Linked DNA regions of Homo sapiens: region 2 is linked to region 1. A link means that fine-mapping ties the variant in region 1 to the expression of a gene that starts in the linked region. Tissue or cell type: thyroid. Region 1 holds a variant in brackets; the other region holds the start of a gene. All regions are shown on one strand. Distances are between the middles of the regions.

Region 1 (8,180 bases):
TGTTTCAGATGTTGCCTGCAATGAACTCGCTGAAGCATGCTCAGCCCTGGAACTGGTGCTACCAGAGTTCCGTAGGGAACCTTTACTCTTTAGAGGTTCCCTGATATAAATCATTCATAAGACTTCCTACCCTGGAAAATGAGTAATGTCTCATTCTTACCTGCAGTTTGTTACTATGTATAAAAGTCTTTTTCTTTAATATGCCTTTAAGTCTTACCTGTTTACAGCCCATTCTGATGGGTTCTTTGTCATTCTGTTAGTATAACCCAGTACTTTTCCTGCTGCCTGGAATGCCCTCTTCTATGTTACCTATTCTGTCCGTTGAGATCCCCCAACTTGGGCCAAAGCCAAGAGATCTATGTGCCTTCTCTGGTTTTCTCCACATCTATAGCACCTCAACTGAAATATATGGATAAAAACAGCCTAACAAAGCTCAGTCTTTCTGAACTAGGAAGTTCACTGATTAGTGCTCAGTAAATGGTTAGAATAAATGGGGAAATAGTTTGGGGCATGGAGGAAGGCAAAGGGAACCAAAAATCCTTAGGTACTTTCCTCCGTAGTTCAGGTCCCTGTGATCTTTTCAGTGAATTTAGCTCTGTTAAGGTGTATATCCCACTCCAGTCAACCCTATTACCCACCCCCCCAAGAAACCGTGAACACTTGATGATTGCACTACCCTTTATTCCTAGGATGGAAAGTGTCCTGAATCACATCCCGGGCCCCTGATTCCATGTGTCAAGGCTTCCAGCCCCTCAAAGCGTTGGAATAAGCATGTTCAAGGAGGCTCACTGGGCAGGTGGCCAACATCCCTTTCAAGGGGATACACCATAAAGATGACATTGTCCAAGGGAGGGAGGGCAGGGTGATCTGGTCTGACCACCTCAAAGCCCATGTAGCTGAAGGCCCGCAGCAGGGCACCTGTGAAAGGATAGAACAAATGATTAGAACATGCTTTAAAACTCAATACATGTATGCCCCCAGATTTGATTTCTTCCACTAGGGAGTGGCCCTGGGAAGCAGTGTAGTGCAGGCATATAGGATGTGCTTTAGTCCAACAGACCTAGGCTCTAACTCTGGTTTTAACACTTGTTCTGTGAGTTAGTCCTGCAGAACTTCAGTTTCCATCTATAGAATTTTCCATTTATAAATCATAGAACCTTCCTCCTCACAGAATTTAAGATGAAATGAGATGTTCATGAAGTGCTTAACACTAGAGATTAGTGAGGTCTACCTATATACTAATACAATGATGACATAGTAAGCTCTGAAATAGTATCTATCACTTATGAATGGTTATTCACCATCCCTTATATCCAACAGAGTTTGAGCTCCTTGAGGCAAGAGGCTATAGTTTCTGTAACATATGCTCCAGGCATCCGGTTAAATATGTCCCCGTTCCCTTGGCCTTATGTCTGACCCTTTCACATTGTAGGTGCTCCATATGTTTGAGATCCATTTTGTCCTGCTGGCCACATCCCTTGAATGGATTCTGTGTAATTTCACCAGTGCTCCTTCAGTCTGGCCCCTAACACCACCTGCAGGGGCTTCCTCAGAGTCCAGTTGTAACTTGATGGAACAAGTTACAACTTCCCACCTTCGTGGTAGGTGGGAAGAAAAGAATCCCTGAAATGCCTGAGGGTGCATTTTTAAAGACAGGGGAAGAGGGTCTCCTATAAAGGAAAAGGAGTTATCCAGCTGCCTCAGCGCGAAAAGCAAGGAAGAACAGCAGATCCCCACCTCTGTCGTTCCGATCATTCTGGAAGTTCACAAACACAGAGTCCACATTTGTCTTCTCTTCCACGTACTCCAGGGTTGCAGTCAAACTAGGAGCCACAGAAAAACAGTTAAAATGTTTGGCCGCTCCCTCTCCCTCTCCCTCTCCGTCTCCGTCTCCCCATGGTCTCCCTCTCCCTCTCTCTCCACGGTCTCCCTCTGATGCCACCAAAGTTGTGAAAGCCGAAGCTGGACTGTACTGCTGCCATCTCGGCTCACTGCAACCTCCCTGCCTGATTCTCCTGCCTCAGCCTGCTGAGTGCCTGGGATTGCAGGCGCGTGCCGCCATGCCTGACTGGTTTTCGTATTTTGGTGGAGACGGGGTTTCGCTGTGTTGGCCGGGCTGGTCTCCAGCTCCTAACCACGAGTGATCTGCCAGCCTCGGCCTCCTGAGGTGCCGGGATTGCAGACGGAGCCTCGTTCACTCAGTGCTCAGTGTTGCCCAGGCTGGAGTGCAGTGGCGTGATCTCGGCTCGCTACAACCTCCACCTCCCAGCCGCCTGCCTTGGCCTCCCAAAGTGCCGAGATTGCAGCCTCTGCCCGGCCACCACCCCGTCTGGGAAGTGAGGAGCGTCTCTGCCTGGCCGCCCATCGTCTGGGATGTGAGGAGCGCCTCTGCCCGGCCGTCATCCCGTCTAGGAAGTGAGGAGCGTCTCCGCCCAGCCGCCCATCGTCTGGGATGTGGGGAGCGCCTCTACCCGGCCACGACCCTGTCTGGGAACTGAGGAGTGTCTCTGCCCAGCCGCGACCCCATCTGGGAGGTGAGGAGCATCTCTGCCCGTCCGCCCTGTCTGAGAAGTGAGGAGCCCCTCCGCCCGGCAGCCGCCTCGTCTGGGAAGTGAGGGGCGTCTCCGCCCGGCAGCTGCCCCGTCCGGGAGGTGGGGGGCAGCCCCCGCCCGGTCAGCCGCCCCGTCTGGGAGGGAGGTGGGGGGCAGTCCCCACCCGGCCACCGCCCCCTCCGGGAGGTGGGGGGTGCGTCTGCCCGGCCGCCCCTTTTGGGAAGTGAGCCCCTCTGCCCGGCCGCCACACCGTCTGGGAGGTGTACCCAAGAGCTCATTGAGAATGGGCCATGATGACGATGGCGGTTTTGTCGAATAGAAAAGGGGGAAATGTGGGGAAAAGATAGAGAAATCAGATTGTTGCTGTGTCTGTGTAGAAAGAAGTAGACATAGGAGACTCCATTTTGTTCTGTACTAAGAAAAATTCTTCTGCCTTGGGATGCTGTTAATCTATAACCTTACCCCCAACCCCATGCTCTCTGAAACGTGCTGTGTCCACTCAGGGTTAAATGGATTAAGGGCGGTGCAAGATGTGCTTTGTTAAACAGATGCTTGAAGGCAGCATGCTCGTTAAGAGTCATCACCACTCCCTAATCTCAAGTACCCAGGGACACAAACACTGCGGAAGGCCGCAGGGTCCTCTGCCTAGGAAAACCAGAGACCCTTGTTCACTTGTTTATCTGCTGACCTTCCCTCCACTATTGTCCTATGACCCTGCCAAATCCCCCTCTGTGAGAAACACCCAAGAATGATCAATAAATACTGGGAAAAAAAAATTTGGCCAACTCAGAATCCAGAAAGACACCTACTTGGAGCAGTAAAAATATTATTGGTCGTTTTCTGCCCTCCACCCACCCAAGCCAGGAAATGAAAGTTGCTAAACTAGTTTTGGTAGATTTTTCTTGGAAGCCAAGAGATTGCACATCACTGGATGTAAGCCACAGAAGGGGTCTGGGGAGAAAGGACTACTGAGATGAACAGCTAGAAAGTACTTCCCGTTATTCAACTATTTCTGGATCTGAGTCCAGCTTCCCATGGACTCTTATCCCTTGAACCCCAGATCCTGGCTCAGCTCACAGGCTTGTCTGCATGCCAGGTGAATGGATTGCTTATATCTAGCTCCAGAATTAGCCTTATGTACTATGACATGATAGAAGGGTGAAATCCCCTACCTATTCCCTCCCCATTCTCCCATCCAGGCTCAGTCACCTTTCCCGGTTGCCTTGATCCAAGGCCTGATATGGGATATCCAGGAAGAGTCGACGGTCACAGAGAAGGCCGTGCCAATGGGCAGAGGTCTGGGAGGTAAGGCGGAAGTGAAAGTCTAACTGTACTGGGTCCTGGTGGAGCAGGGGGTCAGTAGCCAGCACCGTCAAGTTCCCAGCCTGGAAAAGGAGTAAAAATGCTCCTCTAGTCTTCAAATCAGACCTCAGGCAGATGGGGGTGTGTCCGTTGAAGCAAGGTGGGCATTGATGGGGAGAGCCTGGGAGAATTGGAG[C/T]CAAGATCTTAAAGATGCAATAATATCCCTTAGTCCCAGGAACTAATAGCCTATGCCTATTGTGGAGTTCTCCTTTATATCAAACAATCCAGCTGAGGCAGTATTACTGCCTGTTGACTTCAACCCAGGAGTACAATAACCATTTAGGAACTTAGAAATGTTTACATCAGAGAGCTTAGGATTTAAACAAAGCTTTATAATGTGCTTCCTTTCTCACTAATAATTTCCACTTTTTTCATTATATGGGTTTTCTCTAAATTCTTCTATTTAAAATGCCATGGTTACAACCAGGCTTGTTATTGCAATATGATATGTGGGCAAGTTCTGGATTCCAGATCCTGCTTAGCATCTTTAAGCAGGATCTTGGCATAAACAGCTTTATGTCCCAGAAGTCCTACAGAGTTTGTTTTACCTTTGTCCCCACTCCCTCTTTTCCCAATCCTGATTTTCACTACCATCTGTATGACCTTGATTTTACAGTCTGTGGGCCAGAATGCTTGTCTATATAGCAAGTAGCTTTTACACATGCGTTCCAAGATTCCATCTACCTCTGTAATTCATCTTCCAACTTGCTAATGTCCCTCCTCTGCAAGGTATGCAAGAAAAGGGTTGCCCTGTCACAGCACTAGCTCACAGTCCACTTACCGAATACAGTTCTTTAAGCTGGTCGTGGTTACCCTGCTCGGTGCTTTTGCCCTCCTGGAGGCCTACTAGGGACTCAGGAGCACTGGAGGCAGGAACGGGGCTGGAGTGTCAAGTCCTCCTCTTCCTTATAAGTGATGCTGGTTGGGAAAGAGACCCAAATTAGTTTATCTTGGAATCTGAGGTGGGAAGATACACAGTACCAGGCTCTGGCATGATCTTCTGTATTTTCTGTTGTCCAGCCTGTTTCTATGTTCCTGGGCCCAACCAGATGGAAAAATTCTAAAGTTCCATGCCAGCTTTCCACCCCCTATTCTGTTGTTATTTCTTGCCATTTGGGAAATTCTTTCAAATTCTTTTACTTTTTCCTTACATTTTATATAAACAACTACAAATAGAGATGAAAACAAGTACCTTTTATAACAACGAGGCAGCATCTTCTCCCGGAGAGTGATCCGGTACTTGTAACAGTAAAGGTAATAGGCGTATGGTGACCAGATCGGGTAGAGGTAGTTACGTGTTTTTCCCCTCTTGATATAAGAAAGGGAGTAGACAGAGGGGCGACACCTCTTACAAGGCAGTTTTTCAGTTCAGTGCCTCCCTGTGGCAAAGTGAAGTTCACAGGTGGGTGGCAGAGGTTTAGGCAACCTGGTGGCATTGTGACCCAGTGGGCACTATGACATGGATAAGGGGTCAGCCCTTATGTCACCTCAGGACTCCACTCTGCTGCTTATCTACCCTAATCCCTTATCCAAGGCTCATATTCGACTAGTATGCATGTTATGGCTGTATGAATGATTAAAAAATAGAACTTGAAGACTTCTGTACTGGTTGGCCAAAAGCCCTGCCTGAGCACTTGTGCCCACCCACCCTGCTCCTCTGTGGACACTCCCCTTCCCCCAAAATCCAGCAAGTAAAGAGTTGGTATCTGACTCTTCCAAGGCTCTGATCCAGTGGTGACCTGATTAGTTGGTTCCCAGTTCATACCAGTTGAGTATTTTTATTATCATCCCTACCCTTAATAACCCAGGATCCTTGTAGGGTAGGAATTGCAAACTAATTGTCTAGGCCCCTTCAGGGGCCTAGACAGCTTATGGAAATTAGTGGAGTGGCAGGGTAGGGCTGTAGCAAAATAGGAAAGCTCACACGTTATCTAAAGGAAGTCCACACAACTCAATTCCATCCAGTTCCATGCAAGAATGCAGACTTGATGGTGCTGTATCGTATGATTTTTGAACAGAAACTGGAAAGACAGTTTTGTAGTAAATCTCACCAATTTTAAAAAATATCGACTACTGGGCCGGGCACGGTGGCTCACGTCTGTAATCCCAGCGCTTTGGGAGGCCGAGGCGGGCGGATCACGAGGTCAGGAGATCGAGACCATCCTGGCTAACACGATGAAACTCTGTCTGTACTAAAAATACAAAAAATTAGCCGGGCGTGGTGGCAGGCGCCTGTATTCCCAGCTACACGGGAGGCTGAGGCAGGAGAATGGCGTGAACCCAGGAGGCGGAGCTTGCAGTGAGCTGAGATCGTGCCACTGCACTCCAGCCTGGGCAACATAGCGAGACTCCAACTCAAAAAAAAAAAAAAATCAACTACTAAAAAATTGTTGATAAAAAAACAACATTGTAAGCAAAATTTGGTTCTGGGACTGCCACTTTGAGACCTCTGCATATTTATCCATTCAACAAATATTTATTGAGGGTCTACTATTAGCCAGGCACTATTCTAGGTGCTTGAGATGATACATCAGTGAACAAAACAAATCCCTGCCCTATGGAACGTATCTTCTAAAAGTGAGAGGACAAACCTAGAAAATAAACATAGTAAATTGTTTAGTATGTTAGAAGGTAACTGCTATGGGGTGGGGGGAATAGAGCAAGATAAAGGAAGATAAGGAATGTGAAGGGGATGGGTCAGGGTTACAGTAAGAAATAGGGTGATCTCTCACTGAAAAAAACTGACATTTAATTAAACACTTGGAGGATGTGAGGTTGTTAACCAAGCCAGCATCTGAGGATAAGAGCATCCAACGCAAAAGCAGCCAGTGCAAAAGCCCTGAGCAGGAAACGTGCCTGGTGTTTTCAAGAAACAAGGAGGCCACTGTGGGTGGAGCAGTGTAAATTAGAGAGGAGCTAATGGGGTCAGAGTATGTATGGCCTTGTAGACCATCTGATGGCCTTTTTCTTTTACCTTGAGTAAAGGAGGAAGTCATTACAAAGTTTTGGGTGGAAGAATGACATGATCTGACTTATGCTTTAAAAAGATCATTCTGGCTGCTATAAATAAGCTACATAGAATTATAAACTGTAGAGAATTAAGGGATATCTTTTAGGGGACTATTGCAGTAATCCAGGAGAAAGTAGTGTCTTATTCCAAGGTAGAGCATTGGAGGTGGTGACAAGTGGCTGGATTCTGGAAATACAAGTGCTCCTTGACTTAAAATAGGGTTATGTCCTGATAAACCCATCGTATGTTGAAAGTATCATAAGTTGAAAATGCATATAATACACCTACCAAACACCATAGCTTAGCCTAGCCTATCTTAAACATGCTCAGACAACTTATCCGACAGTTGGGTAAAATCATCTAACACAAAGCCTATTTTATAATAAAGTGTTGAATATTTCATGTAACTTATTGATGTCCTACTGAGTGCACATCACTTTCACACCATCACAAACTCAAAAATTGTAAATCCAAGTCAGGGACTATCTGTAATTTAAAGGTAGAACCCACAGGATTTCCTGATGGAGTATGAGAGAAAAGAGTTAGAATGGAAAGAATGGAGTTTCTGTCAACTGAGAGGAAAAAGGCTGCAGATGGGGCAGTTTTGGGGGCGAGGGGGGAATAAATAAATTAGTTTGGGACAGTTAACTTTGAGGTGTCCTTTGGATACGTAAGAGGAAAATGACGAATAAACAGTTGAATATTTGAGACGAGTTTGGGAGATGTCTAGGATGGAACTAGAAATTTGGGAGTCATTGGCTTATAAATGGTATTGTAAGCCACGAGACTGGATGAGATCAACAGTGAGTGTATACTGAGAAGAGTAAAGGTTCAAAAACGGAGTCCCGAGGGCATTCTAAGAAGCGGGGAGAAAAGGAGAAATCAGCAAACGAGACTGAAGAAGACCGGTGTCCAGGAGGCCAAGTAGTGTATTTAGGAGGAAGGAGGACTGGTCAGTATGTTTAAGGGCCAGTCTTTCCATAATCTCTGCCAAATGGACCTTCTTTCATCCAGTTTTTATGGTCTTCTGTCCAGTACTGAGACCCTCCCCAGAGGGAACTGTCGCGGCCTTACCATAGTTGCTTTTTTTTCTACGGTTTACATAGCTTGTGATTTAGAATTCTCCTTTATTAGCTTAAATACTGCAGTATAATGATTAAGGGTCAGGCTCCTCCTGGAGCTGGCAGAGTTTTCCAAGGGATCCCATCCTTTACCACTTTTAGGTAGATTTGAAGTAAGGAAAAGTGAGAGCATCA
Region 2 (8,180 bases), 22 kb before region 1:
AAAAGAGTACATACTCTGTGATTCTCTTTATATAAAAAGCAAGAACAGGCAAAATTAGTTTATGGTATCAGGAGTCAGAAGAGTGGTTGTCCTTGAGAAGAGCAGTGACTGAGAGGGAACACACAAGTGGCTTCTGGGGCACTAGCAATGTTCTGTTTCTTGATCTGCTGCTGGTTACACAAATGTATTCCATTTGTGAAAATTCATCAAGATATATACTTGTCATTTGTGCATTTTTCTGCATGTATATTATAAATTAATTTTTTAAATTGTGGTAAAAAAAAAAACCATAATGTATACAATTTAAAAAATTTTTAGGCCGGGCGCAGTGGCTCATGCCTGTAATCCCAGCACTTTGGGAGGCCGAGGCGGGCGGATCACCAGGTCAGGAGACCGAGACCATCCTGGCTAACACGGTGAAACCCCGTCTCTACTAAAAATACAAAAAATTAGCCAGGTGTGGTGGTGGGCACCTGTAGTCCCAGCTATTCGGGAGGCTGAGGCAGGAGAATCGCTTGAACCAGGGAGTTGGAGGTTCCAGTGAGCCGAGATCGTGCCACTGCACTCCAGCCTGGGTGACAGAGTGAGACTCCGTCTAAAAAAAAAAAAAAAAAAATTAATGATCAATGGAACAAAATGAAAAAAATCCAGAAATAGACCCAAATACATATGGCAATTTGGTATTATAAAGGTAGCATTCAAAAACAATGGAGAAAACATGGGTTATTCAATAAGAAGGATTTGAATAAAACAAAACAAAATTGGATCTCTATCTCACACCTTTACACCAAAATAAATTCCAGATGAATCAAATATTTACATATACAAAGACACTATCAAAGTACTTTTTAAAAAAACATAGGAGCTTTAAGAATAATCTTAAATAGTGGGAGACTTTACTAAAAATTATATGAAACACAGAAGTTGGCCAGGCACAGTGGCTCACGCCTGTAATACCAATACTTTGGGAGGCTAAGGCGGGTGGATCACTTGAGGCCAGGAGTTTGAGACCAGTCTGGCCAACATGGCAAAACTACTCCGAGTCTACTAAAAAATACAAAAATTACCCAGGTATGGTGGTACATGCCTGTAATCCCAACTACTCAGGAGGCTGAGGCACGAGAATCTCTTCAACCTGGGAAGCAGAGGTTACAGTGGGCCAAGATCATGCCACTGCACTCCAGCCTGGGCGACAGAATGAGACTCTGCCTCAAAAAAAGAAAGAAAGAAACCCAGAAATTATCAAAGAAAATATTGATAAATTCAATTACATAAAAATTTTTAACATTTGCAAAGAATAACCATAAACAGGCTGAGGGCAATGGCTCAGGCCTGTAATCCTAGCACTTTGGGAGGCTGAGGCAGGCTGATCACCTGAGGTCAGGAGTTGGAGACCAGCCTCAAAATATGCAATATACATAGAACAAACTTGGAAAAGGGAAAATACTTGTTATATGTATAAACAATATACATAGAACAAACTGGGAAAAGGGACATACTTTTTTTTTTTTTTTTTGGAGATGGGGTCTCGCTCTGTTGCCCAGGCTGGAGTGCAGTGGCAATCTCGGCTCACTGCAACCACCGCTTCCCCAGTTCAAGTGATTCTCCTGCCTCAGTCTCCCAAGTAGCTGGGATTACAAGCGCTTGCCACCATAACCGGCTAATTTTTGTATTTTTAATAAAGACGGGGTTTCAGCATGTTGGCCAGGCTGGTCTTGAACTCCTGACCTCAGGTGATTAGCCTGCCTCAGCCTCCCAAAGTGCTGGGATTACAGGCGTGACCCACCACACCTGGCCGGGGAAAATACTTTTAACTTATATACAAACAGCAAGTATTAAGAAATGACCCTATAACCAATAAAAATATGAACAGAATATAAAAACAGAGAATTTACAAAAAAATTGCCATTTAAATATATTAAAAGATGCTCAACTTTACTTATAAGAGCAATGAAATTTTATCTTGCAATGAGATAGCATTTACACTATCAGATTGTCAAAAATCAGGAAGTTTAACAGCACCAGTGTGCTATCAAACAGGTTCTTTTCATACATTGCTGACAGGAGACAAAATTGGTAAAATTTCCAGGGAAGGCAATTTGGTAATACTAACTAAAATCATTTTCAAAAATTGCTGGTGGGATTAAAATTATAAAAATCTTTGTGGGAGGAAGGGAATTTACAAAATTTTATCTATCCAAATGAAAAAACAATGCACACATTTCTTTAACTTGGCACTTGCATTTCTAAGTATTTATCATACACATATGCAAGAGGGAAATGAAGTATCCTTGCATATCAATCAAATGTTAAAGGACTGGTTAAATATATCTTCATATATCCCTCAGGCATACTATGAAACTATCACTATGAGGCAGATACGTATATGCTGCTACGGAAACATTTCCAGACTGTATCAAAGAAAGTTGCAAAATAGTATGTATGTTATCAACTGGGTTAAAAAAATATATGTGTGTGTATATATATATACACTTTATATATTACACATATACACACGTTAACTATAGAATATCTTGTGAAATTTTTCACAAGAAACTGGTAACCCTAGTTGCCTTGAAGGAAGGAAAATTTATTCACTATAATAACCTTGTTTCTTCTGAATTTTGTAGAATGTAAATGTATTACTTATTCAAAACGCATACACATTTTTATATTAATAGAAAGCAAAACCTGAGGCCCAAAGGCATCTGCCTAATTGACAAAAGATACAACCTTGCGTTCTTTCAGCAAATATTTATTGCTCATCACCTGCCAGGTATTGTGATGGAAGCTAGTGCGGAAGATCCCCCAATGACCAGGATCGCCCGACCCCTGTTCCCAGGGTGAGCCCCTAGCGCGGAGCGGGGACAGGGTGGACCGAGTAGGGCGCAGTGCTGGTCTCGCGAGGCTCCCTGCCCCACGGAGGCAGTAGCAGGACCCAACCGTTCCTAACCGTCCAGGGACCAGGACAGCGTCTGGAATAAAATCTTCCAAAGCAAACTTCCGCCTGCGGAGACCCGCTCCCTTCCTCGCCCCCACAGAAACGCCCCCCGCCACCACCCCCTCCCCCGGCGTAGGCCTTCACGCTGTCGCCTCGACCCGTTTCCTCGAATCCCCAGGGAAGGGTGGGCCCCTGGCGCCCCTATGGCCCGCCGCCCCCTTACCACCGCGGTCGGAGCCCGGGTCTCACTCTCCTGCCGCTGTTTCGGGCCACACCGTGTGTCCGTGCCTCCGCAAAGGAATAGAAGAGTGGGTCCTCGCTCTCTGCGGCGCACCGCTTGTCCCTTGACTTCCTGTCCATCTACAAAGCCTATTTCATGTTTTCCAGAAAGAAAACGTTTTCCGTGTCTCTTGAGTCCTCATCGCCATATGCGGGGCGGGACCGATCTATGCAAAAGATCGCAAGAGAAAACTGATGGAGCATCGCCCATCATGAGGCTGCTCTCCCGATGGTCACTGAGTTGTGTTGTGGCACTGTCTTTGTACAAAGACACCAATTTTTGCGAACGGTGCCACTCATGATTCAACGCTCTCATGCCTCGGTCCCAGCTGCTGGAGCGCAGATTTTCCTCCAAGGGTTAGAAGATAGAAAACTCCTCGGTAATTGGCCTAGAGGTGGTCTGCGAGGACGCCGGGAAGCTTGTAATTGGCTGTTTAATTCTCAGCAGGTGCGGTCTCAGTTAACAACATCTGCTTTTCCTGGATCTTATTGGCTGACAGGGTGGGCCTGCTTTGGATTCCATCCGGGTAATTGGGCAGCGGCTAGCAGCAGCCACGTCGCTCAGGGGCAGCCCGCGGAAGGATTGGTTGTGACGGGAGAAGGCGATTGGTCGGACTGCGAGCAGGGTGTTGATTGGTGCTGTCGGGCTGCGGGGGCGGGGAAGTGGCGGCTGAAGCGCCGCCGGCGGGGCTCACTGTGGTGGTGTGAGTGGGAGGCGGCGGCGCTGGTGGCTGCAGCTGGGGTGAGGCGCGAGGCGGCGCACTCGACGGCTGACTGGAGCAGCGGTAAAGGCGAGGATGGAGACCGAAGGTTTGGGGAGTGGGAAAGACAGGGTCATGGGCAGCCCTGGCCACTAGGAGACGGAAATGCGGGAGCGAGGGAAGGGAGGGGTCTGGCGTGCCCCGGGGCGAGGGAAGGATGTGGGGCGCAGCGGGGGAGTCAGAGCCCTGGGCTGTGAGACGCCGCTCGGGGGCAACTTGACCCACTGGGAACTCGTAACTGTATCTGAGGAAGATGCTCCAGTCACCCGCTTACGCCACAACGGACCCGGTGCGGGAGCGTTTGTGTTTGCCCTGAGTCAGTTCAGACTCTTCCACTGGGCCTTTTTGAGACTGAGAGCTGCCATCCGTATATCACTTTGCCTTTAACTTTCCCCAGCTTTTTCTTTAGTTATCGCTAATAGGATGGCTGTTTACAGTCGTCAGAATAATACATTGGGGTTTTTGTTTTTCCAGTATCCCTCATTCCTTAATCCAGGTATCATCGTGGGGGTTGGCTGGAGACCCCTATTTCAAAGACTGACTTTTAGACCCTTTCCTTGTTTTGAGAGAAAGGGGTTGACACTTTTTTTTTTCTCGTGAATTTAAAATAAACGTACCAAGGATGAGAACATTGAGCTGCTTCGATTCAAGCATGTCACCATGTTGTAGGTTCTTTGTAGGTTCTGGTTATTAGGAGATACTGGAATGAGTTATCTATGCTTTCATGGAGCTAACAATGTGATTTGACTTCTCATCACATCCTATTTGACTCCTGTCATTTTAAATGATAAAGTAAGCCTTAGCGATGCATATCAGATAGTTTTTGGCAATTGTTCAATACAAATGTCAGGAAATTTCAAAGTTAGCTTTCACTGAAAACCATTATCTAACCACATTCCTCACTGAACAATGATCCTCATCTTCTCTTCTTAGCTTCCCCTAGAAACTGTGGTCTTAAGTTCTAGTATTTTCCTCCTTCCCATTCAATTTTTAAGTAATAAAATCAAACACAAGCTAGCAGTCAGTACTATGCAGTTATCCCCGTTTACATTATATTATTTTCCATTTCTCTTTAAGAGAAACTTATAGCTGAAAGGATATGAAAATTGTGAACAAAACCATAGTGACAGATCAAGTAGAGTCTCATTTTTTGAGACATCAGCTGATAACTCAATTAGCACAAATTCATTTGTAATGTTTGAAGAGGAGTTAGTGAAATTTACCTTTTGCTTCAAATAGAAGTCGGCCAAAACCGCACCTATAATCTCAGCTACGCCGGACGACTGCGGGAGTTCAAGGCTGCAGTGAGCTATTATCATTCACTGCATTCCATCCTGGGTGACAGACCAAGGCTCTGTCTCTAAATAAACAACAACAAACTCTCCAATTCATCTGTTCTCCATCTCCATCATTGACACCTGGACTAGGCCCTGATTGGTCTCCTGCAGCCACGGTTGCTGCCTTCAATTCATTCTCCTCACCACGGACACAGATGTTAATCAAGAATGACAAGCATGGCATGTGTTATCAAGGGATATTGGGGATTCTGTGGAAACCCATAGCAATGTAATTCAACCCAGTGTAGGGGGTCGAGATTGAGGGGCCTTGGCTGCAGAGACCCCTCTGCACTTGATCTTGATAGTGTCAGAACTGGAAAACAAAAGTGCTGCTAGTCCTTTGGGCCTCTGTAAAGAGGTGTGATTATGACTGGCCATCAAAACAGACTTATTTCTATTGCACACTGTATTGTGTAGAAATGACTAATGAGCTGTGTGATCTTAGATCAATCCTTTTCTATCCCTTAGCCGCAGTTTCCCAAATTGCAACGTTATTAATGGAATCAAATAAGTTCTGTAGTCCCTTCTAGTTATAAAATCTTGTGATTTCTATGCCCCATAAGCATCAATTATGGCCAGTTTTTAAAAGCAGACAGCATGAAAATACAGATCCAGTTTATTCTTGTTCACAGGGCTAGATTTCAGTTTCCCAAAGCCCTTAAGACCTAAAGACTCCTGCCTGTCAAGATCTTCCTTGCCAGACAGGAAACTCCATGAAGGCAGCTGCCAAATCTATCTTGACTGTTGTGTCCCGAGGGTCAAGCACACATCAGAATTCGATATTTATTGGCTTGAATAAATGTCCATTTAGTGCAGTTCATTCATGTAGTATAGGTTTGCGGAAGAAAAGTGAGTTGTATTTTAATGAGATGATTTTCAACTATACACCATCTAAGAAATAAACCTTAAGGTTCTAGCTACTTTCAACTGTCGCATTGACCAAGAATTTATACAGTTGTCCCTCCCTTCGTTATTTGCAGGGGATTGGTTCCAGGAACCCTGCAGAACCCAAATCCATAGATGCTCATGTCCCTTGTATAAGATGCATATTATTTGTATATAACCTACACACATCTTGCCCTATACTTTTTTTTTTTAAACCCCTTGAGACAAATTCTCGCTCTGTTGCCCAGGGTGGAGTGCAGTGGTGTCATCAGTTTACTGCAGCTTCCACCTCCTGGGCTCAAGCCATCTCCCACCTCGGCCTCCTGAGTAGCTGGAACTACAGGTGTGCAACACCACGCCTAGCTAATTTTTTTTTTTTTTTTTTTTTTTTTTTTTTTGTAGAAACAGAGTCTCACTATGTTGCCCAGGCTAGTCTTGAATACTTGGTCTCAAGCAGTCCTCCTACCTTAGCCTCTCAAAGTGCTGGGATTAACAGGCATGAGCCACTGTGCCCAGCCTGTTTTGGTGTTTATGTTTCCTAGACTATGAATATTTCCAAGTAGAAATTCTTCTTCCTCCTTCTGTCCCCAACGTGCTCAGCACACAAGAAAGAGCTAGCACTATTTAACCAAGATGCATTAATAATGGAAACAAGCTTTGCACTTTAGTGGTCATATAAGAAAATACCTAAGCCAGGCGCAGTGGCTCACGCCTGTAATCCCAGCACTTTGGGAGGCCGAGGTGGGCGGATCATGAGGTCAGCAGTTCGAGACCATCCTGGCCAATATGGTGAAACCCTGTCTCTACTAAAAATACATAAATTAGCTGGGCATGGTGGCAGGTGCCTGTCGTCCCAGCTACTCATTAGGCTGAGGCAGAAGAATCGCTTGAACCCGGGAGGCAGAGGTTGCAGTGAGCTGAGATCGTGCCACTGCACTCCAGCCTGGGCAACAGAGTGAGACTCCGTCTCAAAAAATATATATATCTAAAGTAATCAGGGGACAAAAGAAGTCAAATTCTTTCTAGACACCAAGAATAAACCATCTCAATGTAGGAAAGTAGCAGTTTGGGAGGTGTGTATTCAAGAATTATTTAAGTCAAAAATCTCCTTTATGAAACAACTTGTTTCCTTTCCTTTGGTATATACAACGATGCTTATATAATACCATCCAAACTTTCAGGATGGTGAAAGCTTTTATTTGCAGTGTATTTAAAAAAAGAGAAGCTTATCCAATGACTTGGGAAAAGAACCTCATAAATGAAAACAAACAGCCTACATTAACCTCAACCCTTTCTGTCCTACATTCTAAAAAGGTCGGGAGAGAACAGTATTCCCTCAGATTGATAGTCTCTAAAAATGATATACTGAATTCACTGAGTAACTAATGACCCAAAATAGACGACACCCTTGAAAAGAGGTACCCATCCCCCACCTCGGGTAGTAAAAGGCCGTTTTATTATTTGCTCAGGCTTTTGAGTCCGGGCAAGAAGGTGGATTAAATTTGTTTAAAACCAGGATATAGAAAAAATAGATTTGGCAAACTTCTGGTAGTTCTCTGAAGAACTTTATTCAGTTCTGTTGATCAGTAAAGCTGTGAGGCCAGATGCAAATTCTGGTCATCTGTATGACAGTGTAGTAGTCTACCCTTCTCCGTGGTTTTGCTTTCACTTACCCATAGTCAATCCTGGTCCAAAAAGATTAAATGGGAAGTTCCATACGTAAACAATTCTTAAGTTTTAAATTGTGCACCATTCTGACTAGCATGGTGAAATCTCCATCCTGGCCCAGACGAGAATCCTGCCTTTGTCCAGCATATCCATGCTGTATATGCTACCCGCCTCTTAGTCACTTAGTAGCCATCTTGGTTATCAGATTGAAAAAACCTATAGTTTTCAGTACTCCAAGGCATCCACTGGGGTTCTTGGAACATATTCCTCGAGGATAAGAGAGGATGACTGTTGTAAGAAATCTACCTC

Which allele goes with the higher level. Alleles are on the strand shown, and positions count from the first base shown. SD is a standard deviation of normalised expression in the study named.
As copies of C replace T in region 1, the expression in thyroid of the gene that starts at base 3,910 in region 2 goes down (moderate effect, 0.41 SD a copy in GTEx).

What was found. PIP is the estimated chance that this variant, and not a neighbour inherited with it, causes the effect.
Region 2: it holds the start of TDRKH, and the variant in region 1 is fine-mapped to the expression of TDRKH in thyroid (GTEx, PIP 0.95).

Annotation. Positions count from the first base shown.
Region 1 is chr1:151,763,815-151,771,994 of GRCh38, reverse strand. OAZ3 (ornithine decarboxylase antizyme 3) reads right to left here and starts at 5,340. Exons shown (of 5, transcript NM_016178.2): 1 at 5,107-5,340; 2 at 4,696-4,832; 3 at 3,762-3,937; 4 at 1,738-1,823; 5 at 665-918. The coding sequence starts at 5,273. The coding sequence ends at 776. It also overlaps a transcript of TDRKH not described here. RefSeq lists enhancers at 1,534-2,228, 2,229-2,925. The variant C/T (reference allele first, on the strand shown) is at 4,051.
Region 2 is chr1:151,786,230-151,794,409 of GRCh38, reverse strand. It overlaps TDRKH (tudor and KH domain containing), which reads left to right and starts at 3,910. Exons shown (of 13, transcript NM_001083965.2): 1 at 3,910-4,030. TDRKH-AS1 (TDRKH antisense RNA 1) reads right to left here and starts at 3,661. Exons shown (of 2, transcript NR_146292.1): 1 at 3,165-3,661; 2 at 8-595. RefSeq lists a silencer at 3,966-4,225.